Linked DNA regions of Homo sapiens: regions 2, 3, 4 and 5 are each linked to region 1. The links come from fine-mapping of genetic effects on gene expression. A gene starts in region 1. Each other region holds a variant in brackets. All regions are shown on one strand. Distances are between the middles of the regions. Region 1 holds the start of VWCE (von Willebrand factor C and EGF domains). Region 2 overlaps VWCE (von Willebrand factor C and EGF domains). Region 3 overlaps VWCE (von Willebrand factor C and EGF domains). Region 4 overlaps LOC124902678 (a long non-coding RNA gene). Region 5 has its middle 25 kb from the start of SDHAF2.

What was found. PIP is the estimated chance that this variant, and not a neighbour inherited with it, causes the effect.
Region 2: its variant is the best candidate, but not a certain one, in a credible set for the expression of VWCE in whole blood (TOPMed, PIP 0.52).
Region 3: its variant is the best candidate, but not a certain one, in a credible set for the expression of VWCE in whole blood (TOPMed, PIP 0.59).
Region 4: its variant is the best candidate, but not a certain one, in a credible set for the expression of VWCE in thyroid (GTEx, PIP 0.61).
Region 5: its variant is the best candidate, but not a certain one, in a credible set for the expression of VWCE in whole blood (TOPMed, PIP 0.87).

What each region holds. Positions count from the first base shown.
Region 1 is chr11:61,292,069-61,298,117 of GRCh38, forward strand. It overlaps VWCE (von Willebrand factor C and EGF domains), which reads right to left and starts at 3,248. Exons shown (of 20, transcript NM_152718.2): 1 at 2,860-3,248. The coding sequence starts at 2,969. RefSeq lists silencers at 2,068-2,327, 2,768-3,077, 3,258-3,327 and an enhancer at 2,299-3,001.
Region 2 is chr11:61,256,672-61,262,720 of GRCh38, forward strand. VWCE (von Willebrand factor C and EGF domains) reads right to left here. Exons shown (of 20, transcript NM_152718.2): 20 at 1,615-2,641. The coding sequence ends at 2,004. Among named protein-coding and RNA genes, the nearest start is that of PGA5, 19 kb to the left of the region's middle. The variant C/T (reference allele first, on the strand shown) is at 3,267.
Region 3 is chr11:61,267,131-61,273,179 of GRCh38, forward strand. VWCE (von Willebrand factor C and EGF domains) reads right to left here. Exons shown (of 20, transcript NM_152718.2): 14 at 4,545-4,630; 15 at 1,792-1,888; 16 at 332-414. Among named protein-coding and RNA genes, the nearest start is that of VWCE, 25 kb to the right of the region's middle. RefSeq lists an enhancer at 1-385. The variant C/T (reference allele first, on the strand shown) is at 3,251.
Region 4 is chr11:61,192,046-61,198,094 of GRCh38, forward strand. LOC124902678 (a long non-coding RNA gene) reads left to right here. Exons shown (of 4, transcript XR_007062691.1): 3 at 3,146-3,486. Among named protein-coding and RNA genes, the nearest start is that of PGA3, 8.4 kb to the right of the region's middle. RefSeq lists enhancers at 1,454-1,955, 1,956-2,455. The variant G/C (reference allele first, on the strand shown) is at 2,325.
Region 5 is chr11:61,451,720-61,457,768 of GRCh38, forward strand. No RefSeq gene overlaps it. Among named protein-coding and RNA genes, the nearest start is that of SDHAF2, 25 kb to the left of the region's middle. The variant G/A (reference allele first, on the strand shown) is at 2,871.

The sequences.
Region 1 (6,049 bases):
AAAAACTAGCTGGGCATGGTGACACACACCTGTAGGGTCAGCTACTCGGGAGGCTGAGGTGGGAGAATGGCTTGAGCCTGTGAGGCAGAGGTTGCAGCGAGCCAAGTTGGCGCCACTGCCCTTCAGCCTAAGTGACAGAGCCAGACCGTCTCAAAACAAAAAAAAAAAAAAGAGAGAGAGAAAGATTCTTCCTCAGACACACACTGGGCTTCCTCTCTCCCTTCACCCAGATCTCTGCCCATGGCACCTTCTCAGAGAGGCCTTCCTTGTCCACCCTTACCTTGCTTTATTCTCCACAACATTTACTTCCTGTGACATTAGATTTTAATTTATTAATTCATTGTCTCCCCTACAACTCCCTGATGACAAGGGTTTCTTATCTATTTACCCCAGCACGTACAGGAGTGCCTGGCATGTAGTAGGTGCTCAATAAATGGCTGTTGAGGGAAAGGTTGAGAAGGGCAATGGCATAGGTGACATCTCTTGGGTGGGTGTGGGGTCATGAATGAGCTGCCCAAAACTGGAGGCAGTAGGGGTCTGTTCAAGCAGGAATGAGGTCCAGAAAGGGCAGGAAGCCAGATGCATCCAACTGGTGCTGGGTGCTGAGTAAGGCGTGACCATACAGCCATAAACAAACTACTGCCCCCACCTTCAAGGAAAGTAGGGCAGACCAGGAGCTAGGTGATAACAGCATAGAGTGACAAATGCCACAGTGGGACAGACTGTGGAGCCCTGAGGAGGGTCAGGGGGGGTTCCTGGAAGGGCAGCATCTAGGCTGAGGTGAGAGAGAAAACTTTGGGAGGCCAAGGCAGGCAGATAACTTGAGGTCAGGAGTTTGAGACCAGCCTGGCCAACATGGCAAAACCCTGTCTCCACTAAAAAAAAAATACAGGCCGGGCGCGGTGGCTCACGCTTGTAATCCCAGCACTTTGGGAGGCCAAGGCGGGCGGATCACCCGAGGTCAGGAGTTTGAGACCAGCCTGACCAACATGGAGAAACCCCGACTCTACTAAAAATGCAAAATTAGCCGGGCATGGTGGCGCATGCCTGTAATCCCAGCTACTTGGGAGGGTGAGGTAGGAGAATTGCTTGAACCTGGGAGGCGGAGGTTGCGGTGAGCTGAGATCACGCCACTGCACTCCAGCCTGGGCAACAAGAGCAAAACTCCATCTCAAAAAAAAAAAAAAAAAAAAAAAAAATTAGCCAGGTGTGGTGGCATGTGCCTGTTGTCCCAGCTGCTCGAGAGGCTGAGGCATGAGAATCGCTTGAACCCAGAAGGCAGAGGCTGCAGTGAGCCGAGATCGCACCACTGCACTCCAGCCTGGGTGACAGAATAAGATTCTGTCTCAAAAAAAAAAAAAAAAAAAGTAGGGCAGCCAGCAAAAGAAGAGGAAGGGAGAGGGTGTTCTAGCAGGGGAAACAGCACAACTGCAGGCCTGGAGGGGGACAGAGAGGACAACTGCAACCAGCTCCAGTCATGGACTGGACAGAGGGTGATGAAATCCAGCCTGGTTTGAGCTTCCAACCCCACCGCAACAGAAAAGGGACAAGAAACCCCTTCCCAATGGTGTTCCACCAATGTTCAGAGCGGAGGGAAGATGATTCTGCGAGGCAGGCACTTTGTAAAGCACCCACTCTGCGCTGGGCACTGGGGACATGGGACAAGGCAAACTTAGCGTGTTCTTGGGGAGAAAAATCTGTGCCAAAATGTGACAAGTATTCCGGAAAGGGAAGCTCAGGGTGCAATGGCAGCACACAAAAGTCTGAGGAAAGCTGTCCCTGGGGCCTTTTTCCCTCTCTGAGGTCATCACAGAAGAAAGGGGGGGCCCTCCTGCTGGCGGGAGCTGGCAGTGAAGTCTCATCCACCCCCTTGCTGGAGTGATTATGGCAGCAGCCTGAGAAGGAGGGGACCGGGCGAATGAGCGGAGCCTTGGGACTCTCAGAAACGGACAGGCAGTGCCACCAAGGCGGCAGATAAAAGGGTGCCCAGGGAGGCTGATGGAGTCGAACTCTCAGGTGGGCAGGGACCGAGCACCCGCCAGAGCGCCCTAAGGAGCCTCCTAGGGCTGGTGACAGAGGGACAGGTGGTGGGAGCCTGTGGAACGCCGGGGAGTCGGGGCAGGTTCTGAGCAGGAACTGGCGGTGGCTGTGGAACACACGTGTGAGCTACAAGCCTGGCCGGGCCGCCCCCGCTGCGCGCCCCCCGGAGGACGTGGCCGCGGGCCAGGCCGCCTGCTGACACAGTGTTCCCTAGCTCCGAGCATCACGCACACACGCGCACGGCCCCACCGCGGCCCGGGGGAAAGCACGTGCGGAGGGCGGCATCCATCGCGAAAGACAGCGGAGGGGCATGCACCCCACCCCCACGCGCGCACACGCACGGACAGAAAACGAAAAGTGACCCAGAGACCCCGGCTGTTCCAAGGTCCATGAAGTTCGTAGGGCCAAGACCCAGGGAAAGCCCCGCGCGGCAGGGGAGGCCAGGCGCTGCCCGGGCAGAGCCACGGGCACGCTGGGGGGTGAGCCAGCCAGTCCGGAGACCAGATGGCACGTCCTGGGCTCCCCTCTCCAGAGGTCCGCGCTCCAGGGCACATTAGGAGTCACCCAACGCCTGGACCTCCGATCTCCCAGGTCCCAGTCTGGACAGCCCCAGCCAGGGGGGCACGATGAGCACCCGCCTAGAGGCACAAGTTGCTGACTCTTTGTGCCGTCCCCGAGCTGTGCCCGCGCTGATAGCACCCCAGAGGAAGCCCCGACACGCGGCTGCCTGCGGCTCCTGAGCGCCCCTCCGCGCCTCTCGACTGCACGCCGGTAGCGCTCTCCCGGGCGGGGGAGCGGGGAGGAGCTCCGGGCGCTTACCTCTCGGCCGCGAAGTGCCCGGGCGGCTTCCTCCCGGTGTAGCCTCGGGCTGGTGCCCCCGGCAGCAGGAGCGCGACACAGGCGGCCCGAAGGAGCAGTCCGGCCCACATGACCGGCGGCGGCGGGTCCCCCGGGCTGGGCTCGGCTCCTGCGCCGCGCGCGGGAGAGGGGGCTGCCGGCCCTCGCCCCTCCTCCTGGCGCCGTGGGGAGCGAACCAGCGATCCCCGAAATGGCACGCAGAGCTGAGCAGGGGGGCTTGGGACGCCGAGAGGAGGGGCCGAGGGCCGCGAGGGGACGCGGCGGACGATTGTGGGGAGGGTCTCTGGCACCTCGAAGCGAAACACACAAAGGCAACGCCGCCCGCCTGCTGATGCCTCTCCGAGAGGCGCGGAGCCCGGGGCGGGGGCAAAGATCAGGGACCCCTGGGGGCGGGGTTTCGCCCTCGGCCCACACCCCCTGCCCCGGTTTGGGAGTCGGCTTCCTGCGAAGCGCTGACTGAAGGCGTCAGACCGAGGCCCCGGGAGGAAACAGACTTCGGGAACAAGGCTAGCACCAGAGGCTGCGCGCCCCGGGCATGGCCCCTGTCGGTGGGACCCGAGACGCCTTGTTGTGACGAGGTGGGAACCGTGGAAATTCGAACCCACGACGCCAGGTCGCTGTGCCGCTGAGCAGTTCTAGGCCTGCCCCCAGCCTGCCAGAAGGTCTGCACCCTAACGCCGGAGTGCGTTGATCTGTGGGTCCAACCGCTCCCTGGCCTGGGGCCCTAGCCACTTTTGAAGCCCCGGGCTCCTCTGGGCACCCAGGGGGCAGATGGCCGGCCTCCCGACTGCTGGTGGCAAGACCAGGAAGCAGCTGGCGCCGTTGGCAGTGGAGAGGCAGCAGCAGATCTGGAAGGCTCCTCTTTGCCCCTTCTGCAGCTGCCCCAGGCCGTGGTCAGAGACTGGGGGGCTGCCTAGGGATTTAGGCAAAGAAGGGGTGCGGAAATCAAAATCATCCCGCTGGGAGAAAGCTGAAAGGATAACTGATTTTACCTTCTGCTCCATGCAGTAATCTTTCCCTTAGCCACCCACAATTAGTCAAGATTTTGCTTAAATACTTCCAGGGGTAAGAAACTCACTATCTGTTAAGAAGCGGCCCAATCCAGTTTTGAACCACATTTGTTTTAAAGTGTCTTCACTTCCCAGTTGAACAATCCCTGTTCCTTTGGCCTTCCTGCTACCTCTGCCTTTACTGAGGTGCTTAACATTGGTGGCCACAAATGGACATGGCGTACCAGCGGTGGCCTGGACTCGTGCCTCCTTCCTGCAGACACCATACTTTTACTAATGCACCCTAATATTACGTTTTTGGCAACCCCATGATGTTAATTATGACACATTGAGTTTGCAGTAAAGAAAAACCACAGGTGGCCGGGCGCGGTGGCTCACACCTGTAATCCCAGCACTTTGGGAGGCTGAGGTGGGCGGATCACCTGAGGTCAGGAGTTCCAGAACCAGCCTAGCCAATATGGTGACGCCCCATCTCTACTAAAAATACAAAAATTAGCTGGGCATGGTGGCGGGCGCCTGTATTCCCAGCTACTCAGGTTGAGGCAGGAGAATCACTTGAACCCAGGAGGCAGAGGTTGCAGTGAGCCAAGATTGCACCATTGCACTCCAGCCTGGGCGACAGAGCAAGGCTCCATCTCAAAAAAAAAAAAGAACGAAAAAAAGCAGGCATTTTTTGTTGTGCTTTTATGTTATTTAAACACAAGCTGCCAAGTGGTCTCCCTACCTGAAGCTGTGTGGCCCCATTTTTTTTTTTTTTTTTTTAGATGGAGTCTTTCTCTGTCGCCCAGGCTGGAATGCAGTGGCACGATTTCGGCTCACTGCAACCTCCATCTCCCGGGTTCAAGCAATTCCCCTTCCTCAGCCTCCCGAGTAGCTGGGACTACAGGCGCACATCACCATGCCCAGGTAATTTTTGTATTTTTAGTAGGGACGGGGTTTCACCATGTTGACCAGGCTGGTCTTGAACTCCTGACCTCAAATGATCCACCCACGTCAGCCTCCCAAAGTGCTGGGATTACAGGCGTGAGCCACCGCACCCGGCTTGTGGCTACATTTTTGCAGACATTCACCTTGAGGCCGTATCTCACCTTGTTTGTTTTGGCCCATTTTCTTGTCAACATATTCTCAACAAGTAGGAGCCAAAATATTCTGTAACATAAGATGAATGCAATTTCCGTCATATCCATTCTGAGTCCCAAGGACCCTCGGAATCCTAAGGCATCTTTCTCTCTTGCCCCAAACATCTGAAGGTTACACTTTCCCCCTCCACTGCCCCTAAACCACCAATGTCAAATAGGTGCTCTTTTTTCCTGGCCCTAGGGGAGCTACCCAAATTTTCAACAGGCATACACAGAACAAGTGTCCACATGGCTTCCATATTTCATGCCATCTTCTCACACTCCAGCACACCTCAGCTACCTCTGTTCTTAGCTACATTATGGAGCCCCACCTGCTCCACCTCACCCTGTAAAACTCACTCCCTGGCAGAGTTTGCTCCATATTGGCCAATGAGCAGCTGGAATAGCTGAGATGCAACTTTGTGCTTGAAGAAAACCCACATCTACCCTAAGGAATTTAGGATACTTAGTACACAGTAAATTCCTGTTAGTGAATCTCCAAACAACGTCCAAACTGCCCCTGGCATTTCTTTCATTTCCCCATAAAGTTTCTGTGACCTTATGGCATTCACCTTGCTCCTATCAACATTTTCCCCTTTAGTTTGGTTTTTGTTTTTCTTGTCTTTTTGTTTGACCCTGAGGTTTCTCAGTTTGGACACAGAGTCTCTAACTTACTATTGTTCAAGACTAGTTCGGGCATATCCCTTGATTGCAGTTCCTGTGTTTCTTCCCACTTCTGTGGCTTGTGGTTTCTCAGTAACAAAAGGGACCCTCCACCGAGGGTGGAGGATCCAAGTTGTTGTTGGCTGCAGAATGACAGCCTCTGGCTTGTGATCCCTTCAAATGGTCATGTGATGAGTCAGTGTTTCTATTATTCTCCCAAAGGTCCCTTCGTGCAGAGGCCTGGAGTGATGCTAGTTCATCAGCGCCTACATGGAATGGAGCTGTTCCAGTTGGCTACAGCCACGCTCCAAAGACAACCTTTCACCCCTAGAGAGGTGATTAATGGTGTTTAAGAGGGGA
Region 2 (6,049 bases), 35 kb before region 1:
AGCGAGACCCTATTTCTACAAAATTTTTTTAAAAGTTAGACAGGCGTGGTGGCATGTGCCTCTAATCCCACCCACCCGGGAAGCTGGGGTGGGAGGAAGGCTTGAGCCCATGAGGTTGAGGCTGCAATGAGCCGTGATCATGCCACTACACTCCAGCCTGGATGACAGGGCAACATCCTGTCTCAAAAAAAAAAAAATGGTAGCAAGTGGTGACTTGGTGACAGAGCAGCTTCTGCTTTCCAGCCCCACATCACTTCCCTTATCACAAATCCGCATCCCCCCATTCATGACGGCACTGTCCTCTTTCCGTCTCTCATGCACACTGTGCTACACTGCCCAGATCCCCCCACTAGGACTGAAGGATCAGTCTCCCAGCTGCTGGGAAGGTGGTTGATAGCAGCTCTCTGGTCAATATGAGGCAGAAAGCCCTGCCCCGTAGCTCCAGCTCAGGACAGCTCCGAAGGGCCAGCCTAACCCCAGAGCTCCCAGAGGGGGCTGGCTGAGGCTTCGAGAAGGCCCAGCAGCCCCAACTCTCCCTCCCTGCTCCTTCCCCGCTGCCCACAGGTGTTCCTGCTGAAAACACGTCTTAAGAAACTGCTGGCCCGGCCCGGCGCGGTGGCTCAGGCCTGTCATCCCAGCACTCTGGGAGCCCAAGGTGGGCAGATCACCTGAGGTCAGGAGTTCGAGACCAGCCTAGCCAACATGGTGAAACCCCAACTCTACTAAAAATACAAAAAATTAGTCAGGTGTGGTGGCGGGCACCTGTAATCCCAGATACTCAGGAGGCTGAGGCAGGAGAGCCGCTTGAACCCAGGAGGCAGAGGTTGCAGTGAGCCAAGACCTTGCCATTGCACTCTAGCCTGGGCAACAAGAGCGAAACTCCATCTCAAAAAAGAAACTGCTGGTCTGTCATTTCGTCTCAGAGGTTCCTTCCCAGAAGCAAGTCCTCTCCATCATCTTTTCCCTTCTCACTGTGGAAGCCCCCCAGTGTCTGTATGGTATTCCATGGTGTACATACTATGCAGCCATAAAAAAGAATGAGATAATGTCCTTTGCAGGAACATGAATGGAGCTGGAGGCCATCATCCTTAGCAAAGTTACGCAGGAAGAGAAAACCAAATACCGCATGTTCTCATTTGTAAGTGGGAGCTAAATGATGAGAACACATGGACACATAGACACGAAAAGCACACACTGGGGTCTATGGAAGGGTGGAGGGAGGGTAGAGGGAGAGACTTAGGAAAAATAACTAATGGGTACTAAGCTTAATCCCTGGGTGATGAAATAATATAATCTGTATGACAAACCCCTGTGACACGAGTTTAACTATATAATAAACCTGCACATGTACCCCTGAACTTAAAATAAAAGTGAAAAAAAGAAAAAAGAAAACAGAAAAGAAAATCATGATCTTGGGGAAAAAAATAAAAAGAAGTCTCCCAATATAAAAGGCCGCCAAGTGCTTACAGGAGACCCTTCCCCAGCCCAGTCACAATTTGGTGCCAGCTTTTCTCCCCAGCAGTGGGGTAAAGGTGGATGCTCACTTACCACCTGTGGGCTTGGGGTCACGTTTCCCACCTTCCCACAGGTAAGCGGTGAATGAGCAGTGCAGCATGGGGAAACCGAGACAACCTTTAATCAGGAAACCTCAGAGAGACGCATGACACCTGGCGGTACAGTCCCAGTGAGTGGAATCCCAGCCGGACGCAACTCTTCCTCCAGGAGAACTTGGCAGTCCCAACCCTTCTCAAAAGATGAGCCAGCCACGCGGTCCAGGGAGGATGCTGACAGTGGAAACGACTTCCTCCATTCTTACAGCACATTCCAAACACTTCTTGGGAACAAGGTTACATCCAGCCTTGGGGGTCTTCCATCCTCACCAGGGCCCCTGCAGGAGGGAGCCCAGGCATCCCCACCAGGTTCATCCTTGGAGCTGCCCTGCACACACCCTGGGCCACTGGCAGAGGTCCTCTCTCCAGAGTCTCCCGGACACAGTGACCTCCTTACATGGTGGACTCTTCCCCCCGAGAAGCCCCCACTGGGGGCTGCTGGGGGCCAGGGTGGGTGGTGGCTGCAAGGGCTGTGGAGAGTCTAGAGGTGGTGGGAGAAAGCACGCGAGGCCCGAGGAGGGTGATGGGGGTCTTCGAGGGGCTGGGGTCCATCATGGAAAGTGCTGAAGCTTCCGTCAGGAGGGTGCCAGGCAGAGGAGGCCACCTGGACACTATCTGGGCCCCAGAGGCTGAGAACGAGCGCTCTGGAGTCACAGGAGGTGGCTGAGGAGCCCCTGGGGAAGCTAGAGGTAGAGTGGGGGCTCCTGGAGGGGTCGAAGGCCCTGGTGAGAGTCGAGGGGAGGCCCCAGGCTCCCCTGGGAAAGTGGCTGTCAGCCCCAAAGCGAGTGAGTGTGGACCATGAGCTCCTGCCGGGCTTGTAGGTAAAGTCTGTGTTTTCATCAAGTTCGTTCTTAAAAGGAGCTGGAGGAGATGAAGCACCGGCCTCGAGGGTGATGCTGTCGGGGGCCCAGGACAGGAGCTACAGTTGACAGGGGCCTCAGTGTCTCCATGCAGGCTCCGACCAGCTTTGCTGAATGCCACATTTCCGTGAGGGGAGAGCCCCTGCTTTTCTTCCAGAGGAGACAGGGAATCTAGAGAGACGAGGGTGAAACGAGATGCACAATGGCTCTCTCCAGTGGCCAAGGTGGCTCTGGGACAAGGTATACCAGGGACACCCAAGCTCTGTCCTCAGAGGGGCCTCAGCACACCTGGTGAGGACCAGCCAGCTCCTGCCTCCAGGAAGGGAAGACTGAAGGAGCCATGAACGGAGGGAGGCAGGCAGTTAGCTGTGTGACCTCACGCAAGGCATGCAACTCTCCTGGGCCTCTGTTTCCTCATCTGTAAAATGGGCACAGCAGTAAGGACTGAGTGTGAATGAAAGGGTGCACGGAGAGTCTCAGCCTAAACCTCAATGTGAACTATAGACATTGGATGTCAATGACATGTCAGTGTCAGTGTAGGATCACCGATTATAACAAACATGCCACGCTGGTATGGGGTGCTAATAGGGGGCAACGCTGTATCATGTGGAGTCTGAGGCATATGGGAACTCTCTGTACTTTCCACTCAATTTTGCCATGATCATCAAACTGCTCTAAAAAATAGTTTCTTTGAAGAATTTTTTAAAAAGTCTCAGCCTAGGGCCTGGCATATCATAAAGGCTCAGTACACAAGGAGAAAATAAACACAGATGCTCCTTGACTTACGATGGGGTCA[C/T]GTCCCAATAAACCTGTAAATCAAAAATGCATTTCTGACCAAGCGCAGTGGCTCACGCCTGTAATCCCAACACTTTGAGAAGCCGAGGCGGCGGATCACCTGAGGTCAGGAGTTCAAAACCAGCCTGGTCAACATGGTGAAACCCCATCTCTACTAAAAATACAAAACTTAACCGGACGTGGTGGCGCGTGCCTGTAGTCCCAGCTACTCGGGAGGCTGAGGCGCGAGAATCACTTGAACCCAGGTGGCAGAGGTTGCAGTGAGCTGAGATCGTGCCACTGCACTCCAGCCTGGGAGACAGAGCAGGACTCCGTTTCACCAAAATTTAAAAAAAGGCTTTTTTTTGGGGTGGGGGGGACAGGTTCTCACTCACTTGTCCAGGCTGGAGTGCAGTGGTGCAAACATGGCTCACTGTACCCTCAACCTCCTGGGCTCAAGCGATCCTCCCATCTCGGCTGTCCTACTTGCTGGGGCCACAGTCACATGCTACCACACCTGGCATTCTGTTCTGTTCTGTTCTGTTCTGTTCTATTTTATTTTTGTAGAGACAGGATCCTACTTTGTTACCCAGGCTGGTCTCAAACTCCTGAGCTCAAGTGATCCTCCTGCCTTAGCCTCCCAAAGTGCCGGGGTTATAAGTGTGATCCACGGTGCCCAGCAAAAATGCATTTAATACAGCTCACTTCCTGAACACCACAGCTTACCCTGGCTGACCTTACACGTGTTCAGAACCCTTATACTGGCCCACAGTTGGGCAAAATCATCTAAGTAAATCCCTATTTTTTAATAAAGTGCTGAATATCCATGTGTCACATATTGATAACCCAGGAAAAGATCAAAATTCAAAATACAAAATACAGCAAAATTTTGATGGTTTCACATCATTGTAAAGTCAAAAAATCATTAAGATAAACCACCAGAAAGTCAGGAATCATCTGTGAAAGAAGGAAGAAGCTCAGCAAAAAGAAAATGAAGAGTGAAGAAGCAAAAAAAGAAAAAGTATCGGCCCAGGCGCAGTGGCTCATGCCCATAATCCCAGCATTTTGGGAGGCCATGGTGGACAGATCACTTGAGGTCAGGAGCTTGAGACCATCCTGGCCAACATGGTGAAACTCCATCTCTACTAAAAATACAAAAATTAGCAAGGTATGGTGGTGCCTGTAGTCCAGCCACTTGGTAGGCTGAGGCAGGAGAGTTGCTGGAAACCGGGAGGTGGAGGTTGCAGTGAGCCAAGATCATGCCACTGCACTCCAGCCTGGACAACAGAGAGAGACTCCATCTCAAAAAAAAAAAAGAAGAAAGAGTATCGAAGGTATGATCAAGGAAAAATCAGACGTTGTCAAGCACATAAAAAACTGGAATGATTATATTTTAAAAATCAACTATTCATATTAATAGATGGTTGCGTAACTCTAAAAATATGCTTAAAATGACTGAATCATACACTTTAAATGTGTGAATTGTATGACATATGAACTTTATCTTTAGAAAGCTGTTATACTTTTAAAAAAATCATCAAAAGAGGCTGGGCTCAGTGGCTCATGCCTGTAATCTCAACAGTTTGGGAGGCCAAGGCGGGACGATTGCTTGAGTCCAGGAGTTGGGACCAGCCTGGGCAACATAGCAAGACCTTGTCTCTAAAAAAAAAAAAGTAAAAAAATTAACCAAGTGTTTATCACTTCATGGGCTTGGAAATAAAACAAAAATAGAAACAAAAAATTAGCCAGGCAGGGTGGCATGCACCTGTAGTCCCAGCTACCTGTGAGACTGAAGTAGGAGGATTGCTTGAGCCCAGGGGTCGAGGCTGCAGTGAGCTGTGATCGCACCACTGCACTCCAGCCTGGGCAACAGAGTGAGACCCTGTCTCAAAAAAAAAAAAAAATCATCAAAAGAAAGCAATTCATATTCTACTTCAATAAAAAGTTGTTTTTCCTTAAAGGGAGCTCTTGTTAATAAGAGGTAGGTGGTAAACATAGTGTGCTTCAGGAGAAGGAGCTGGGCTCTGGAGGTTACCTCTTGGTTTTTGTTTTTGTTTGAGACAGAGTCTTGCTCTGTTGCCCAGGCTGGAGGGCAGGGCGCAGTCTCAGCTCACTGCAACCTCCATCTCCCAGGTTCAAGCAATTCTCCTGCCTCAGCCTCCCAAATAGCTGAGATTACAGGTGTGCACCAACATGCCCGGCTAATTTTTCTATTTTTAGTAGAGACAGGGTTTCACCATGTTGGACAGGCTGGTCTCAAACTCCTGGCCTCAGGCGATCCACCCACATCAGCCTCCCAAAGTGCTGGGATTACAGGCGTGAGCCACCACGCCAGACCTGGAGGTCACCTCTTTGGGTCTCAGTTTCCCCAGGTGGAGGTAGGAGGGCACGGTGGGAAAGAGGACAGGATAGGAAATAAGAGAGACCTAGGCTTAAGTCTTACACACCAACTAGAAACTTAACTTCTTTGAGCCTCCATTTCCCCACCTGCAAAATGGAGATAACATAGCAGCCACGCTGGAACACTCCATGAACATTTAAATGAGGTAATACATTTAAATAAGGTATAAAATGCTCAGTATGCTGCCTGGCACATTAGCTAGCAATCAGTCTCTAGACAGTCAGGGGACTAATATCCACTAGCATGCAGAGAGGTTTGTGGTGGTTACAATGAAGTACAATCTATAATGTCCCCAACATGATGGATTTGAAGGCTCAATGGATATTCCTGGCGCCACCCGCCCTAAAAGCTCATCATCCACAGATCTGAAGAGCTGCCCCCGAAAACAGAACATACTCTTCAAA
Region 3 (6,049 bases), 25 kb before region 1:
GCCTGTGGTCCCAGCTACTTGGGAGGCTGACACAGGAGAATCGCTTGAACTCGGGAAGCGGAGGTTGCAGTGAGCCAAGATCACACCACTGCACTCCAACCTGGGAGCCTGGGTGACAGAACAAGGCTCCATCTCAAAAACAAACAAAAAAAATTTCTCTGGCCCTGTCTAAAGGGTCACCCTGGGCAGGACTGGAGGGAGCTGACTTCCACCATGAACCAGAAGCATCCCTTGTCTTGGAGGTCTCTGGATTTTGCCTCTGGGATTCAGGAGCCGATGTCAGTTGTGGGGGAGTTTCCAGGGGCGGGAGTCAGATCTGGGTGGTCCATACCAGGCAGATGCAGCTCAGACATGGGTCCAGCACAGACGGGAAGGTCTCGTTGTTATAGAAGATTCTGCCTGTGTAGGTGCAGCCTGCCAGAGAGAGCATGCGCTGAGCACCAGCTGGGAGTGGCCAGGCACCAGGCTTCCCGCCAGGGCCAAGGTCACAGGCTTATCTGGATGGCAAAGGGGAGGCCATGTGCCTCCCCAGGCAGTCACCCTGGGAGTTAGGGAAGGGACAAAACGCCTGTTTGGATTGTCTGAATCGGGTATTGACTTTTTTCCCACTGGATTCAGCAAAAGGATCAAGTGTCTTGGCCTCAGTGTCCTCACCCTGAAGAGTGGGGAGATTCATCCTCTACCTCCTCACCAGGGGGGATCAGGTGGAAGAACTGGGAAATACGAGGTGTGTGTGAGGCCCCACAGCATCTTCCCAACCTCCTCTCTGCCCTCCAAACTCACTCAAACCACCAACCCCGCCTGTCCAGAACATTCCCCAACACTACTCCCCTCTCTGATTCCTGACAGCCCCAGAAGCCTGATGTGAGTGATGCCACCTTGGATGATACTATCATATACTGCTAAGTGTAAAAGCAGGTGATGAGACAGTAGGGGAAGCTTTAAAAAAATAAAATAAAATAAATAAATATATGTATGTTTATATATATATTATATATATAATGTACATCTACTAAATGTGTGTGAGCATCACAAAAAGAGACTAGAAGGACATAAACACAAATTTAACAGTGCTAATAGGTCCTTGCTAATATTCTTTATTTTTGCTTTCTGTACTTTTTTTCTAAATTTTCTATAATGGAGCTGGGTGCATTGGCTCATGCCTGTAATCCCAGCACTTTGGGAGGCCAAGGCAGGCAGATCACCTGAGGTTAGGAGATCGAGACCAGCCTGGCCAACATGGTGAAACCCCATCTCTACTAAAAATACAAAAATTAGCCAGGCATGGTGGTGGGCACCTGTGATCCCAGCTACTCAGAAGGCTGAGGCAGGAGAATCACTTGAACCCGGGAGGTGGAGGTTGCAGTGAGCTGAGATCACGCCACTGCACTCCGGCCTGGGTAAGAGAGCAAGGCTCTGTCTCAAAAAAATAAGATAAATTTTCTATAATAAAACATTACTTCTGAAATCATGGAAAAGGTAAAAATGACTATTAAAAGGCAAAAATGACTGTTAAAACTTCTCTCCTCCTGCTGTTCTCCAATTGTCTCACAGGTGCAGCTCCTGTACCACCCACCTGCACCGTAAGCCCTGCGTGTCTTCAGATCTGCCTCGAGCACTCAGAGGGGGCCTGACTTGGGTAAACTGTTCTACCTCAGTTTCCTTATCTGTGCAATGGGGTTGTCCCTTGGGGTTGTTAGGACGACATGAGATGAAGGCTGTATAGGGCTTAAGGAGCCCGATGCCTGAGATGCCCTGCCCTGGGGGCTTGGGGCAGAGGCAGGGGATTACCTGCTGAACAGTCTGGGCAGCACTGTCCAGGGATCCGGATCGGGTGAGGGCAGGAGTCCACACAGTCTGTCCTCTTGCAGCTCACCGAGCCATCTGCCTGGAGGAAGGAGGAACTTCACCAAGACCCCACCGGTGACACCGGCCCCTGCCTCCCCGCCCTGCAAAAGAAACAGCAACGCTGCAAACTGGCCAAGGCTTGCCCTGAAAGGCAACATGACGCGGCTGGAAGATGGCAGGTCTCCCCTAAAGAGGATCGGCTACTTGAGAAAGGCCATGTGAGCCTTCCAGGAAGTCTATGCATCTTTAAGGAGAAGGAAGGTCAGGGTTGGGATTCTGGTCTCCTCCGCTTCCTGTAGCAGCCAAAGCCTGCACCGTCACCACCATCCAAATCCTTTCTCAGCTTTTCCCTGGAACCCTGGCTCACCAGGAACCTACAGAGTACCATAAAACCCTATTTTTAGAAAAAACAATGCCACCAGAAGTGTCTATTTCAGAGAGCCAAAGTGCCATACAAGGTTTCTTTCTTTTTTTTTTTTTCTTTTTAAGACGGAGTCTCACTCTATTGCCAGGCTGGAGTGCAATGGCGCAATCTTGGCTCACTGCAAACTCCACCTCCCGGGCTTAAATGGTTCTCCTGCCTCAGCCTCCCGAGTAGCTGGGATTACAAGCATGCGCCACCACGCCAGGCTAATTTTTGTATATTTAGTAGAGATGGGGTTTCACCATGTTGGTCAGGCTCGTCTTGAACTCCTGACCTCAGATGATCCACCTGCCTTGGCCTCCCAAAGTGCTGGGATTACAGGTGTGAGCCACCGCAACCGGCCTCTTTTTCTTTAAAAGAAAAAAACACAAAAACAATCTGACAGTTTGAACCTTTTGTATCACTCTCTTGGTGACTGATTATGGGTGCCCGAAATCAGTCATAAAGGAGAAGACAGCACAGGAAGGACTTTCCTCCCAACTCTAATTTCAATGAGACGTGTTCAGCTTACAGCATTTTTTTTTTTTTTTTTTGAGACGGAGTCTCACTCTTTTGCCCAGACTGGAGTGCAGTGGCTCTATCTTGACTCACTGCAAGCTCCGCCTCCCGGGTTCACGCCATTCTCCTGCCTCAGCCTCCCGAGTAGCTGGGATTACAGGTGCCCGCCACCACGCCCAGCTAATTTTTTTTGTATTTTTAGTAGAGACAGGGTTTCACCATGTTAGCCAGGATGGTCTCAATCTCCTGACCTCATGATCCACCTGCCTCGGCCTCCCAAAGCGTTGGGATTACAGGCGTGAGCCACCGCGCCCGGCCCAGCTTACAGCTTTTTAACAAACGGCTCATCGAAGGCACTAGAAGGCTGGGCTTCTCCCACATGAAAGTGCACACAAATCACCTGGAGGTTAAAATGCAGTTTGTGAGAGCAGAGGTGTGGGCAGGGCCTCGAAAGGCTGCACGTCTAACCAGGGCTCCCAA[C/T]GCAGGTGCAAGGGACCTCATTTTGAGAAATAAACCTCTAAAAGACTCGAAGCTCTTAAAGTAGAAAGGAAAGCCAGCATGTATTAGATTGGTGCAAAAGTAATTGCGGTTTCTGCCATTGTAAGTAATGGTAAAAAACTGCAATTACTAGTACTTCAATAATGAGCTAAAACAATTGTATTTCTGGGTGGATAGCTGTGTTTGCATTGTTGTTGATCTGACTCAAACTCATGCACCTCCTTACTCATTTCTGAAATGGTGAGGTCACATGTTTTGCAGTCATGAAGAAAACATTGCAATTTCACAGAAACAGCCTGAACAACTGGGTCTCAGGCTACCCCACTCCCTCAGTTATCCATGCCTGGGGAAAACCTTCTATGAAGATTCCTAATTCTTACTCCTCATGCCAGCAGCTCCCTGCACATGCACACTGTGTTACACACACTTTTTTTTTTTTTTTTTTTTGAAACAGGATCTTTCTCTTCTGCCCAGGCTGGAATGCAGTGATGTGATCACGGCTCACTGCAGCCTCGACCTCCTGGGTCAGCCTCAGGAGCTGAGGAAGCGATCCTCCCACCTTAGCCTCCCAAGTAGCTGGGACCACAGGGGCATGTCACTACATGCAGCTAATTTTTGTATTTTTTTGTAGAGACAGGGTCTCACCATGTTGCCCAGGCTGGTCTCAAATTCCTGGGCTCAAGCAATCTTCCCACCTCAGCTATGTTGGGATTATAGGCGTGAGCCACCACTCTTGGCCATACACACTTTTTTTTTCTTTTTTTTTGAGACTCCTTCTTGCTTTGTCGCCAGGCTGGGGTGCAGTGGCGTGATCTCAGCTCACTGCAACCTCCTCCTCCCGGGTTCAAACGATTCTCCTGCCTCAGCCTCCCAAGTAGCTGGGACCACAGGCACCTACCACCACGCTCGGCTAATATTTTGTATTTTTAGTAGAGACAGGGTTTCACCATGTTAGCCAGGATGGTCTCGATCTCCTGACCTTGTGATCCACCCACCTCGGCCTCCCAAAGTGCTGGGATTACAGGCGTGAGCCACCGCACCTGGCCAACAATACACACTTCTTAAGGCCAACTGCCAAGCACCATCGTCCTCACACATCTACTGAGAGCAGGATAAACTCGGTCCAACCCTTTTTGTGAAAGTGGAACTTGACAGCACCGGAGGGAGACTGCGGCCAGCCTGAGGCCAGCCTCTGGAGGGGCCAGGACGCTTGTCTCCTCTGGGTGAGGCGGGGCAGCCAGGTAAAGCAGCTGAAGGCGAGCAGGTTGTCATTCACCTGGCAGATGCATAACTCACAGGGGTCACCAGGCGACCAGATCTGTCCAATCGGAAACTCAACCCCGTTGTCGTCAAGAGAGCAGCCTGGATGAGGACAATGGCAGAGAAAAGACGGCACAAGACCTAGACTACAACAGCAGCAAGGACAGATGCCTCATGCGCACAAACACACACAGACACCGATATCACTCACACACGGACACACAAACTTACACACACTCATACAAATGCACACTTACACAGATACAATTCACACAGATACACATACACTCATACAAATGCACACTTAAATATACATGTACACACAGATACCATTCATGCACAGAGACATACACATACCGATACAAATGTACATTTGCATACACACACAGATACAACAGACACACATGCTGATACAAATGTACATTTGCATACACACACAGATACAACACAGACACACATGCACACAGACACACACATACTCATACAAATGCACATTTACATACACACACAGATACAACACAGACACACATGCACACAGACACACACATACTCATACAAATGCACATTTACATACACACACAGATACAACTCACACAGACACACACTCATACAAATACACTTACATACACATACATATGCTCAGACACACACACACAGATACTACTCAGAGAGACACAAACTTACACACAGACACACTCATAGAATCATACACTTACATGCACATACACACATACAGACATGCATGCTCACACAGGCACACACAAAAACACAAAAACAGACACATAACATACATACCACAGAGACACACTCATACTACACAAAACATACACATACATGCTCATACACAAAGACACATGTACACAGACTCCCACAGATACCATTAACACACTGACACACACACACAGAAAACTATTCAGAAACACAGAAACACACACACACAGGCACATACTAAGACATACTACACAAAACACAGATACACACTCGTACACAGGCAAAGACACATGTACACAAATTTACACACATTCATACAAATGCACACATACACATACATGCTCACACAGACGCACACTACTCACACACAGACACACAAACTTACTCTCACGCAGACACACTCATACAAACATACACTTACATGCACACACACATATGCAGACACAACAGACACAAAGATGCATGCTCACCCAGGCACACACAAAAACACAGACACATACACACACACCCACAGAGAGACACATAGACATACTACACAAAACACAGACACACACTCATATACATAAATACAAAGACACACATACGCAGGTACCACTAACACACCAACACACAGATAACCACTCACAAACTCAGAGACACACAAACTTACACACACAGGTACACACTCAGACACACTACACAAAAACTCACACTCATACACACGCACACAAAGACACATGTACACACACACACAAACAGCACACACACCAGCAGTCTCAGCAGCAGGTGAAGCTCAGCCTCTCTCCCCAGTATCCATGCCCTGTGTCGGGG
Region 4 (6,049 bases), 100 kb before region 1:
CACCTATAATCCTAGCACTTTGGGAGGCCGAGGCGGGCAGATCACCTGAGGTCAGGAGTGGCAGACCAGCCTGGACAATATGGTGAAACCCCGTCTCTACTAAAAATACAAAAATTAGCTGCTTGAACCTGGGAGGTGGAGGTTGCAGTGAGCCGAGATCACTCCATTGCACTCCAGCCTGGGCGACAATAGTGAAACTCCATCTCTATAAATGAATAAATAAATAAATAAATAAAAATTAAAAAATTAGCCGGGCGTGGTGGTGTGCACCTGTAATCCTAGCGACTGGGGTCGCTGAGGCATGAGAATTGCTTGAACTGGGGAGGCAGAGGTTGCAGTGAGCCAAGATTGCGCCATTACACTCCAGCCTGGGCAACAGAGCAAGACTCAGTCTCAAAAAATAATAATAATAAAGAAAGAATACATCAAACAAACCCTAGTTGAGGGACATTCTGCAAAACAACTGGCCTATACTCTTCAAAAGTGTCAACGTGATGAATGAAAAAGGCAGAGGGAGGGACTGTTCAAGATCAAAGGACACCTGGGAGACCTGGAACCCAAAAGAATGTGCGATCCTGGATTGAGTTGTGGAACAGAAAATTAAAAATCACAAAAAAGGACAATTTTAGGACAACTGGTGAAATCTGAATATGTGCTGTGTATTAGATAATAGTATCGTATCAATGTAAGACTTACTGCCTGTGGTCATTTTGACATCATCCACGTAAGCAAATGTCCTTAGAAACACACACTAAAGATTTAGGAGCAAAGGATCATGATGTCTGCAATTGACTCAAATCATTCAGCCAAAATAATAATAATATGCATGTATGCATGTGTATGGAGAGAGAGACAAAGAGAATAAATTCAGTAAAATGTCAATACGTGAATCTAAAAGCAATTATAATAATAATAATGAATCTGAGTGAAATATATATGGGAATTTGTGGGAGGTGTTTGTTTGTTTGTTTGTTTGTTTGTTTGTTTTGGAGAGGGAGTTTCGCTCAGTCACCCAGGCTGGAGTGCAGTGGTGCCATCTTGGCTCACTGCCACGTCCACCTCCCAGGTTCAAGCCATTCTCCCACCTCAGCCTCCCTAGTAGCTGGGATCACAAGCATGCACCACCACGCCCGGCTAATTTTTTTGTATTTTTAGTAGAGATGGGGTTTTGCCATGTTGGCCAGGCTGGTCTCTAACTCCTGACCTCAGGTGATCTGCCCTCCTCAGCCTCCCAAATATATGGGAATTTGTTGCACTATTCTGGCACTTTTTCTGTAGATTTAAAATATTTTCTTTTGTTGTTGTTGAAACAGGGTTTCACTCGGGTCGCCCAGGCTGGAGTGCAGTGACACAGTTATGGCTCACTGCAGTCTCAACCTTCTGGGCTCAGGTGATTCTCCACCTCAGCCTTCTGAGTAGCTGGGACTACAGGCGTGTGCCACCATGCCTGGCTAATTTTTTCTATTTTTAGTAGAAACAGAGTTTCACCATGTTGGCCAGGCTGGTCTCGAACTCCTGGACTGAAGCAATCCACCCACCTTGGCCTCCCAAAGTGCTGGGATTACAGGATGAGCCTCCGTGCCCGGCTCTCCTTGCCATTTTTACATACTGATATCTCTGGGCTCTGTGCCAGACTGGGGTGGGTGCCAGAGGAAAAGGATAAGACCCCGCCCCTCCCCTTGAGCACAGGGTCGACTGCAGGTGGTCACGCACCATCTGCTGGGTGCTGGGGGGCAAGGCGGCAGCAGGACATGGGAGGAAGGTACGGGGGAGCAGGGTCTGAAGGAGAGCATTAGCAAGGGCCCTCCCCCTCCTCCTCTCTCCTGCCTTCCACCGGGATCTGCCTTGCTCCGAGGCGGAGAGACTGACCCCCAGGCTCCAGTACCCTCCACCTTCAGCCCCAGCTCGAGCTGGGTCCTGGCAGTGCTAGTCCCTCCCTGCGCTCCTTTTGATTTTCCACTGCTGCTGGCTCCCGGTGCCTCCTCATCGCTTTTGGGGTCCTTTACCCTTGCCCACCCCCTCACTAAATCTCTTCAAACCTCTAGGTGGGCCACCTGTTTCCACAAGGATTCTGACACTCTAGGTAATGACAGAGAAACGCTTTCAAAGGGAACAGCTTGTGCCAAGGCTCAGAGGCAGGGGAGGATGTAGCCCAGTGGGAGAATTCAGACCGCCCAGGGCAGGAGGGCAGGAAGGCAAGCTGTTCCAGCCCAGGTCACAGCTCTCAGCATTGAAACTGGGAACTGTGACACCTCCCACCTGAGCCCCACATCCCCCACCCCCGGAGGACGCATTGGCCGGGGCCTGCCTACAGCTTTACCTGA[G/C]CCCATCCCGGAGCGTGGACTGGGACACAGGAGCAGGCTCCAGGCTCCACCGTGGATTACACAGGCACACCCCTTGCTGAGGTCGAAAACAGGAGGCTTGTGTTCCTCCTCCACAGTGGCGTGGTTTTGGAGCCTCCAGCCAGGCCCAGAAGCCTCCTCTACCTTTCCTTTTTTTTTTTTTTTTCTTTCTTTCTTTTTTTTTTTTTTTTTAGATAAAGTCTCGCTCTGTTGCCCAGGCTGGAGTGCAATGCTGCAATCTCAGCTCACTGCAACCTCTGCCTTCCGAGTTCAAGCGATTCTCCTGCCTCAGCCCTCTGAGTAGCTGGGATTACAGGCACGCGCCACCATGCCTGGATAATTTTTGTATTTTTAGTAGAGACGGGGTTTTACCATGTTGGTCAGGCTGGTCTTGAACTCCTGACCTCATGATCCGCCCGCCTCGGCCTCCCAAAGTGCTGGGATCACACGCATGAGCCACCATGCCCAGCCCTCCTCTCTACCTTTTCTAGCAATGAAAACTTCATACCTGACAGTCAGCCTGGATGCTTAATGCTCAACCATTCACTCAACATCTACACTGCCCCAGGTCCAGATCTTTGTAAAAATGAGATGCTCCCCTAGGAAGGAGGAACACACTCCTGGACTGATTTCAGCCTCCAGATACTAAGACAGTTTAAATGCCTCCTCCTCCACGATGGCCTCCCATATGTCCCTTGGAAGTAAGCTCCTTTTCTTGAATGACTAGCACTCTGTCCCTTTTATACCCTTCTTAGTGTCTGCCCTAGTTAATAATTTCTACTGTTTTCTGCTTTTTATTACAGTGACTGAGGTATGGGTCTTACTTCTCTCACTCAGATGTAAACCCACTGAGGACAAAACTCATGGCTGATTCATCTCTATCAAGCCTACTGCCTGGCATGTGGAATGTATGAATGAGTGAATGAACGAGAAGATGAACAAGGCAAAGCGCTCATAAGCATGGCCAGTTTGGCCAGGGAGTAGGCTGTAAGAAGACGTCAGAGCCTTCTGCTTGAATCTGCTGCCTTGCCGCCCACCCCAGGCTAAGGCACGAAGACCCTCAAAGCTGCTGCTGCAGGTCCTTTGGAGGAGCAGGCAGCTGGGCTCCCTGGCTCTCCCATCTGGAGCAGGAGGCCCAGGACAGGTGCTTTAAATACCCTCTGGCCACACCCCCAGCCTACTGCCCCTGGCACCAATGGTGGCAGAGTCACAGGTCAGAAACCAGGATTCAGGTCACCCCTTAGAAGGAACAGGGCGTAGATGGGGACAGATTGGATCAGAAAAGGCTGAGGAGGCCAGGTCCAGAGCTGTGCACACCTGGGAGTAACGTGGTATTTGAGATACCGAGGACAAAAGAGCTGCGGCTGTCGGGGGCAGGACGCACTATCAGGGGACCTTAACCTCTGTCCCCAAGAGGGGTTCACACCCCAGGCCACCAGTTTCAGTGGGTTTACACTGGGGCTCTGGGCAGGCGCAGCTCAAGGCAGGTGCTCTGAGGGAGAGCAGGGCTGTGAGGGGCTGGGGAGGCTGGCCCAGAATCTCCCCATGCCCGCCTGGAGACTGCAGGCCAACTTCCTGGTCATGCCCCAGTTCCCAGGAATTTTCCAGCTCCTGCTTAATAGCTCCATCCTCCCTCCATCTGCCCCCAGCCCACTCCCAGTTTCCAAACATTTTCTTTTTTGCTTCCAGTTAACCCTTGCTCTGCCCAGTACCGAATTTCTGTCACTGCCTCCTCCAAGACCTTCTCTTGTATTTTGCCCAAAGCAGGTGTCAGAACCCTTTCTGGGGGCCGAGCAGCTTGGTGTTGGGAGGCTGTGGTTGAGATTCCCGGCTCTCTTACTCCCTTCCCAGGGCTTGGGCAAATTCTTGCCCCCAGTGCCTCCTCTCTGCTTCCTGACTCTCCCTTGAGAGCTTGGACCATAGACCCCAGCACCCTTCCTGCTCAAGGACACACTCCACTCTGAGTATACACCCAACAGAAACACATACATATGTTCTCTAAAAGATGTGTATTAGAAGCCGGGCACAGTGGCTCACGCCTGTAATCCCAGGACCTTGGGAGGCCAAGGCAGGTGGATCACTTGAGCCCAGGAGTTTGAGACCAGCCTGGGCAACACAGGGAGACCCCGTCTACACAAAAATAAAAAAAATTAGCCAGGCATGGTGGCACACACCTGTGGTACCAGCTACTTGAGAGGCTGAGGTGGGAGGATTGCTTGAGTCTGGGAGGTCAAGGCTGTGGTGAGCCATAATTGTGCTTCTACACTCTAGCCTGGGTGACAGAGCAAGACCCTGTCTCAAAAAAAAAAAAAAAAAAAGAATGTGTATTAGAATGACTGTAACTAGCAATAGTAAGTTCTATAGTTTGAAATATCTGGAGGGAGGATATTGAATGCTCCCAAAACAAAGGAATGATAAGGCCAGGCGAGGTGGCTCACACTTGTAATCCCAGCACTTTGGGAGGCCGAGGCGGGTGGATCACCTAGGAACAGTTCAGGGGTTCGAGACCAGCCTGGCAACATGGTGAAACCCCGTCTCACTAAAAATGCAAAAATTAGCCAGGCTTGGTGGCAGGTGCCTGTAATCCCAGCTACTCGGGAGGCTGAGTCAGGAGAATCTTTTGAACCCGGGAGGTGGAGTTTGCAGTGAGCCAAGATGGCACCATTTCACTTCAGTCTGGGCAACAGAGCGAGATTCTGCCTCCAAAAAAAACAAAGGAATGATAAATGTTCAAGATGATAAATATGCTAATTACTCTGATCTGATCACTAAACATTATGTGTACGGAAACATCCCTATGTACCCATAAATATGTACAATTATTACATGTCAATTAAAAAGAAAAGAGCTAGGCACAGTAGCTCATGGTGTAAATCCAGCACTTGGGAAGGCCAAGGCGGAAGGACTGCTTGAGGCCAAGGGTTCAGGACCAGCCTGAGCAACATACCAAGACTTCATTTCTATTGTTTTTAATAAATAAATAAAAGGAGAAGAAAGAAGATGTGTATATAAGAGAACGTTCATAGAGCACTGTTCCTAAGAACTCCACACTGGAAGCTTCCCAAATGCCTATGAACTGAAAAAGAGAAAATAACAGGTATATTGATGCAGAGGAATAATACACAGCAATGAAAATGACTGAGTAACAACTCCACACACCGCCATTCGTGGATGCCTCTCCTAAACATGATTTTGAGCAAAGAAGCACAATGCAAACTAAAGTGCTTGTTATGTGGTACTGCTTAGCAAAAGTACAAAAACAGGGAAATGAATCTTTGCTGTTTGGAAATTAGAGTAGTGATACGCTTGGTTTGGCCCTAGGATAGTGACTGGGAAGAGCCTGGGGTGGGGTCCCGGGGTACCTGACATGCTCTTTTGCTGGGTCTGGGTTGTGGTTACATGCGTGTGCTTGGTTTGTGAAAATTCATCAAGCTGTTTCTTACGATATGCACCTTTCTGTGTGCATATCATATCTTGAGAAAAGTTTTAAAATGATAATGTAGATTTATAAAAATCACTTGTAAAATACAAGACCATGATTTTTCTTTTAAAAGCGGGTTTGGGTTGCAAATAAAGTAGCGCAGCAGAAGCAAGCTGGGCCTATCAAAACAGGTTGGTTGCAAAACATGTGCCATATCTTGTGGTCCTATATTTGTAAGTAAATCAATATATTCATTTACTACGCCAGTGGTGGTTAGTTCTGGGTA
Region 5 (6,049 bases), 160 kb after region 1:
AGTTGTCTGCACTAGCATAGCACAATGTGCTACACCCAGTGCCAGACACAGAAGACGCGGAGATCAATGAGATGGAGCTCGTGCCGCAGAGGTCCTCTGAAGAAGGGATAAGTGAATGGAAGGCACGAAAGGATCTGTCTATGGGCCTCAGGCACTGACCCTGTGAGAGCAGGCAGCAGGACATCTAGCCTTGTATGCCAGGTCTATCCTCACAGCAGGGATGAGGACACCAGGCCACTGAGCTCTGAGACACCTACTTTTAATATAGAAATAACTTCTTTTGTTCTGAATTCACCCTCAGCAATCAGTTACGATTGTCTGGTAGATTTCCTTTTTATAGAGACAGGGTCTCACTCTGCCACCCAGGCTGGGGTGCAGTGGTGTGATTGACTCTTGGGCTCGAGGCATTCTCCTGTCTCAGCCTCCTGAGAAGCTGGGACTACAGGCGCATGCCACCACACCCAGCTAATTTTTTAAAAAAAGTTTATTTTGGGCCAGGTGCAGTGGCTCACGCCTGTAATCCCAGCACTTTGGGAGGCCGGGGTGGGCAGATCAAGAGGTCAGTAGTTCGAACCAGCCTGGACAACATGGTGAAACCCCCGTCTTTACTAAAGATACAAAAAATTAGCCGGGCGTGGTGGCACGTGCCTGTAATCCCAGCTACTCAGGAGGCTGAGGCAGGAGAATCCCTTGAACCCGGGAGGCGGGGGTTGTAGTGAGCCGAGATCATACCATTGCACTCCAGCCTGGGCGAGAGACTCCGTCTCAAAAAAAAAAAAAAAAGTTTTGTAGAGACAGGGTCTTGCTGTGTTGCCCAGACTGGTCTGGAACTCCTGGCTTCAAGCGATCCTCTCACCTCAGCCTCCCAAAGCACTGGGATTACAGGCATGAGCCACTGAGCCAGGTCTGTCTGGTAGATTCTTACCCTGTGTCCATGCTGTTTGCCATGTAGCTTTTAGGGCTTTCTGCCCAGACGCTGGGGTCAACTCATTGCTTTGGTCAATGAGATATCAGTCATTGTGAAGCAAGCACAGCCTTAGAAAGCACTTCCCCTTTAGCTCTTGTACCCCTGCCACCACGTGAGAACCTGCCCATGGTAGACTTCTGGAGGATGAGATGTGTGTCCCAGTCACCCCAGTTGCCTCAGCCAAAGTCAGCTGACAGTTAAGTGAGCCCAGTCAAGACCAGAAGAATTACCCGGCCAAGCCCAGTCCAAATTGTGAACCCGCAGACTTTTAAGCTAAGGAAATGCTTATTATTTTAAGTTATCAAGTTTTGGGGTCATTTGTTATGCAGCATTATTGTAGCAATTGATAACAGATACAGATGGCAACAGGGCTTGTCCATGTAGATTTGCTTTATAGGGAGAAAAATCACTGACTGGCCAGCATGAATGAGCATCCTGTCCCTTGGATGGGTCAATCTCTCATTTGTTTTTTTGTTTTGTTTTGTTTTGTTTTTTGAGATGGAGTCTGCTCTGTTTATTGCCCAGGCTAGAGTGCAATGGTGTGATCTCGGCTCACTGCAACCTCTGCCTCATGGATTCAAGTGATTCTCCGGCCTCAGCCTCCTGAGTAGCTGGGATTACAGGCATGCACCTCCACGCCCGGCTAATTTTTGTATTTTTAATAGAGATGGGGTGTCACCATGTTGGCCAGGCTGGTCTCAAACTCCTGACTTTACCACCCGCTTCGGCCTCTCAAAGTGCTGGGATTACAGGCGTGGGCCACCGTGCCCGGCCCTTGAATTTTTAAAAAGGCAGCTGCTTAGTATAGATCAGATTCTTGTGAACTTAGTATAGCAATCGCCTATGAACACACATGATTCCTACTGATCTATTTGAACAGCAGCAATAACATTTACTGAGCACTTATTCCAGAGCAGACATTAGGCTAACACCATACATGGCTTGTCCTGCTGAATTCCATAGCAGTCTGATGAAGTTGCTTGTATTGTTGTCTTCATTTTGCCAAAGAGGAAACAGGCCCAGAGGGACTGAGTTACTCACCTATGGTGACAGTGGCTTAGCACTTAGCAAACAAACTGATATAGGACCCTTGGAAAGTTGGAGGTCTGTGTTATGCATTAGCAAAATGTTTGATAAAACTACAGCCCACTGTAGCTTGGGAGGGTATCCCATGTGCTTTCCAGGCTGACAGCCAAAGGCAACGCAGTTGGAAAGCAGAAAACTTGTCATCTCTCTTGGCTACTGTAGGCTGTATTTGTTGAGGATTTATAAGGAAGGGATGAGCTCAGGCGAGGATTACCTGGTGTTTGAGCAGTAATGAAAGGAAATAAAGTACAGAAACCCACGGTCTTTCAGGGTTGGAAAATCTGCTACACCCCAAATAGGAAGAGATGAGATATAAGACTCATCTGGGCAAGAAAAGCCTGGTAAAACTTTTCTCTTGGATGCAGTTACTCAGGACAAGCATCAGGTTAAAGGTGGGCCTCCTATTTATTGTTCCAAATAGCCTCAAGCTAGCCATTGAGTAGAAAGGGAGAGACATGGAGGATGAACAGGCAAAACATATTAGACCTAAGAACTGGATCTAGGAAAAGACTTGGCACGTGCGTGAGCGTGGCCACTGGCCCACAAAGCTGACCAGGGCAAGTAGGTTAGACACTAACTATGTAAAGAATTGTATTGCCAAGGAACCGGGAGCCAGCCCTTTGGACAGTTCCAGCTATAAAACAACCTTTGGGCCTCCAATCATCCATGAGCAGGAGGGACGGTGCTCAGCCCCCAGAGAGGGCAGGCTCTGCCACTCTCATTTCAGCTGTAGCCAGAGAGGATGATGGAAAAGGAGGAATCTCCCAGAGAGAAGAGCCAGGGCCAATGTGGAGAGTGGATAAGGAGAGTGTCTCCC[G/A]GCAAGCAGCACCGGGGTGTAATGAACGGGTACCCCTGAGTCCTGTCCCTGCTCCACCACTGTGTGGCACAGGGTTAGGGGAGCAACTTGCTTGTCTTTTTGGTCATGGCTTACTGGACTGAGAAGAGCCACATTGGATGAGAAGTGACTACTGCACATCACCAGAGACCCTGGGCTTTGAGCCAGATATCGGGACTAGATAGGACTTTGGGTCCCTTGGGAAGAGGGTGTGTTCCCTGAGTGAAAAGAAAAACTTGGTTTGGCAAACAGAACGGTGGATCGTGGCAGAGATGATGGTATCCACCCGCCACACCATTTGATCTCCCTGAGCATATAGAAAGACCATTTCCTATAGCATCCAGGAAATGCCCTGAGCATGTGGGAAGCAGACTCTCCGGGCCAGGTGCGGTGGCTAATATCTGTAATCCCAGCACTTTGGGAGGCCGAGGCGGACAGATCACTTGAGGTCAGGAGTTCTAGACTAGCCCGGCCAACATGGTGAAACCCCGTCTCTACCAAAAATGTAAAAAATTAGCCACATGTGGTGGTGGACGCCTGTAATCCCAGCTACTCGGGAGGCTGAGGCAGGAGAATTGCTTGAACCCGGGAGGCAGAGGTTGCAGTGAGCTGAGATCGTGCCACTGCACTCCAGCCTGGGCAACAGAGCGAGACTCCGTTTCAAAAAAAAAAAGAAGGAGCTGCCCTGATAACAAGGCTGGTGCTATGCGACTGAGTCCGGCAGAGAGAGTGTGAGTGAAAGCAATGAAAGCCACTTCCAGGCCTGGCCCTTGGAAACATCTTGAGTGGTTGCAGCCCACTGTTACCCTGCTGCAGACATCCCAGAGACCACACGTCCAGACAATGTGGCACACGAAGGAGGAGGGCCACCTAATCTCTTGCAAACTGCTTGTGAATGAGAAGCCTTTACTGTGTTAAGTCAAGGGGGATTTCATGCTTTATTCATTTCCTCATCATTGTCTATTCGATCCTGATTAGCACCTAGCACCTCTCAGTGTAGCAGGCTCATAGGATATCGCTGGCACATCTCAGTATATCAGACCTCATCTTGGCCAGGCACTCAGTTTCTGTGCTCCAGCCTCTAAGATGGTCAGTCTTTCAACCTCACCCTTTGCAGAATTCCTCCTGCTGCAGGGCCTTTGCACATGCTGTATGTCTTTGGCCAATCTGCTCTTTCATGTTCCACAATGACTGGGTCAAACCTCCCACCCATTACTCAAACCTGTGACTTTTCCTTCTCTCCATTCTCAGACGACCTCACTGACTTCCATCAGAGGACATTGAAGCCCTCAGAGAGGAGCTCCCTTGCCTTCCCACATCTGCACACCCATTCTTCTGTGACACAGGAACTTTGGCTTCTGCCCTTACCTTGCTCTGCACTGTCAGTAGCAGCCTGCCTCCTGTATGCTCATCTGTCCCACTCGGCTCAATCCTACTCCCAAGCCCTGGCTTCTTTGTCAAGTCCAGTGACTCTCCTTTTTCTTTCTTTCTTTTTTTTTTTTTTTTTTTTTTTTGAGACAGAGTCTCACTGTGTTGCCCAGGTTGGAGTGCAGTGGTGCAATCTTGGCTCACTGCAACCTCCGCCTCCTGGGTTCAAGCGATTTTCCTGCCCCAGCCTCCTGAGTAGCTGGGACTACAGGCGTGTGCCACCACGCCCAGCTAATTTTTGTATTTTTAGTAGAGACGGGGTTTCACCATGTTGGCCAGGCTGGTCTCAAACTCCTGACCTCAAGTGATCCACCTGCCTTGGCCTTCTAAAGTGCTGGGATTACAGGCGTGAGCCACCGCGCTCGGCTGACTCTTCTTTTCCTTTCCTCCCCTTTGTAATCCAGCTTCTTCAAGGGGTTGACTATACTTGTCTCTACTTTCTTAAAATCTCACTTATTCTTTATATTAATCTATCCATGTTTCCACCTCGTTATGCTATGAAAGCATCTCTCACTAAAGTCACCTGTGACTTCCATGTTGCTAATCCAACAGGCTTTATTGAAGTTTTATCTTTGCCTCTAACCAATTATGGACACCTCCCCTTCCCTTGATTTTCATGATTCTGTTTCCTTCTGCCTCTCCAGCCATGCTTCTGCCTCTGTGAGGCACGCCGTCCTCTTCCCAGTCATTCTGTTTGTAGTTCTTCACAGTGCTCTTCTAGGAGCCTCCTCTCTCCTCTGGATACTCTCTCTAGTGATCTCACCCATACCGGGGTACCCATCACCACCTATGTGTGGACAGTTCTCACATCTTCCTCTAAGCTCCAGCTTGCATATCTAACTGCCAACTTGACTCCTCCTTTGAAGGAGGCTGAAAAACCCTTCAAACTCAGCCAGGCTACCCTCCCTCCCTGTTCTACTCACCAAAAACTCCCTCATCTTGAGAGCCTCAGTGAATGGCATCACCAGTCATCCAGTTGCTCAAGCTGGGAATTGTCCTAAGCTGCTCCTTCTCCCTCCATGGCCATCATCCAAGGCCTGTTGACTTAGCTTCAAAATAGTTCTTGAATCCATCACTTCTTCCCATCTCTAGCACCATCACTGTGGTGAAAGCTACTCTCATCTCTCTGATGGACAATGGGTATGGCCATCTGATCTGCCTTCATCATCTGGCATTCCCTCAAATCTGTTCTTTGCCTGCAGCTCCCAAATGAGTGTGCAGTTAACCCTTGAACAACACAGGAGTTGGGGCGCCAACCCCTGCATAGTCGAAAATCTGCATATACCTTTTGATTCTCCAAAAACTTTACTAATAGCCTACTATTGACCAGAAGCCTTACTGAGAACATAGTCGATTAACATGTATTTTATGTTATATGTATTATATACTGTATTCTTAGAGTTAGCTAGAGAAAAGAAATACTATTAAGAAAATCAGGCCAGGCACAGCATCTCACACCTGTAATTAGCTTTGGGAGGCTAAGGCAGGAGTTGGAGACCAGTCTGGACAACATGAGACCCCAGCTCTACAAAAAAAAAATGTTAAAAATTAGCCAAGTGTGGTGGCACACCTTGTAGTCCCAGCTACTGGGGATCTGGGGCAGGAGGTCGAGGCTACAGTGAGCTGTGATCACACCAGTGCACTCCAGCCTAGACAACAGAGTCAGACTCTGTCTCTTAAAAACATCATAAAGAAGAAAAAATACATTTACTATTCATTAAGTGGAAGTGGAT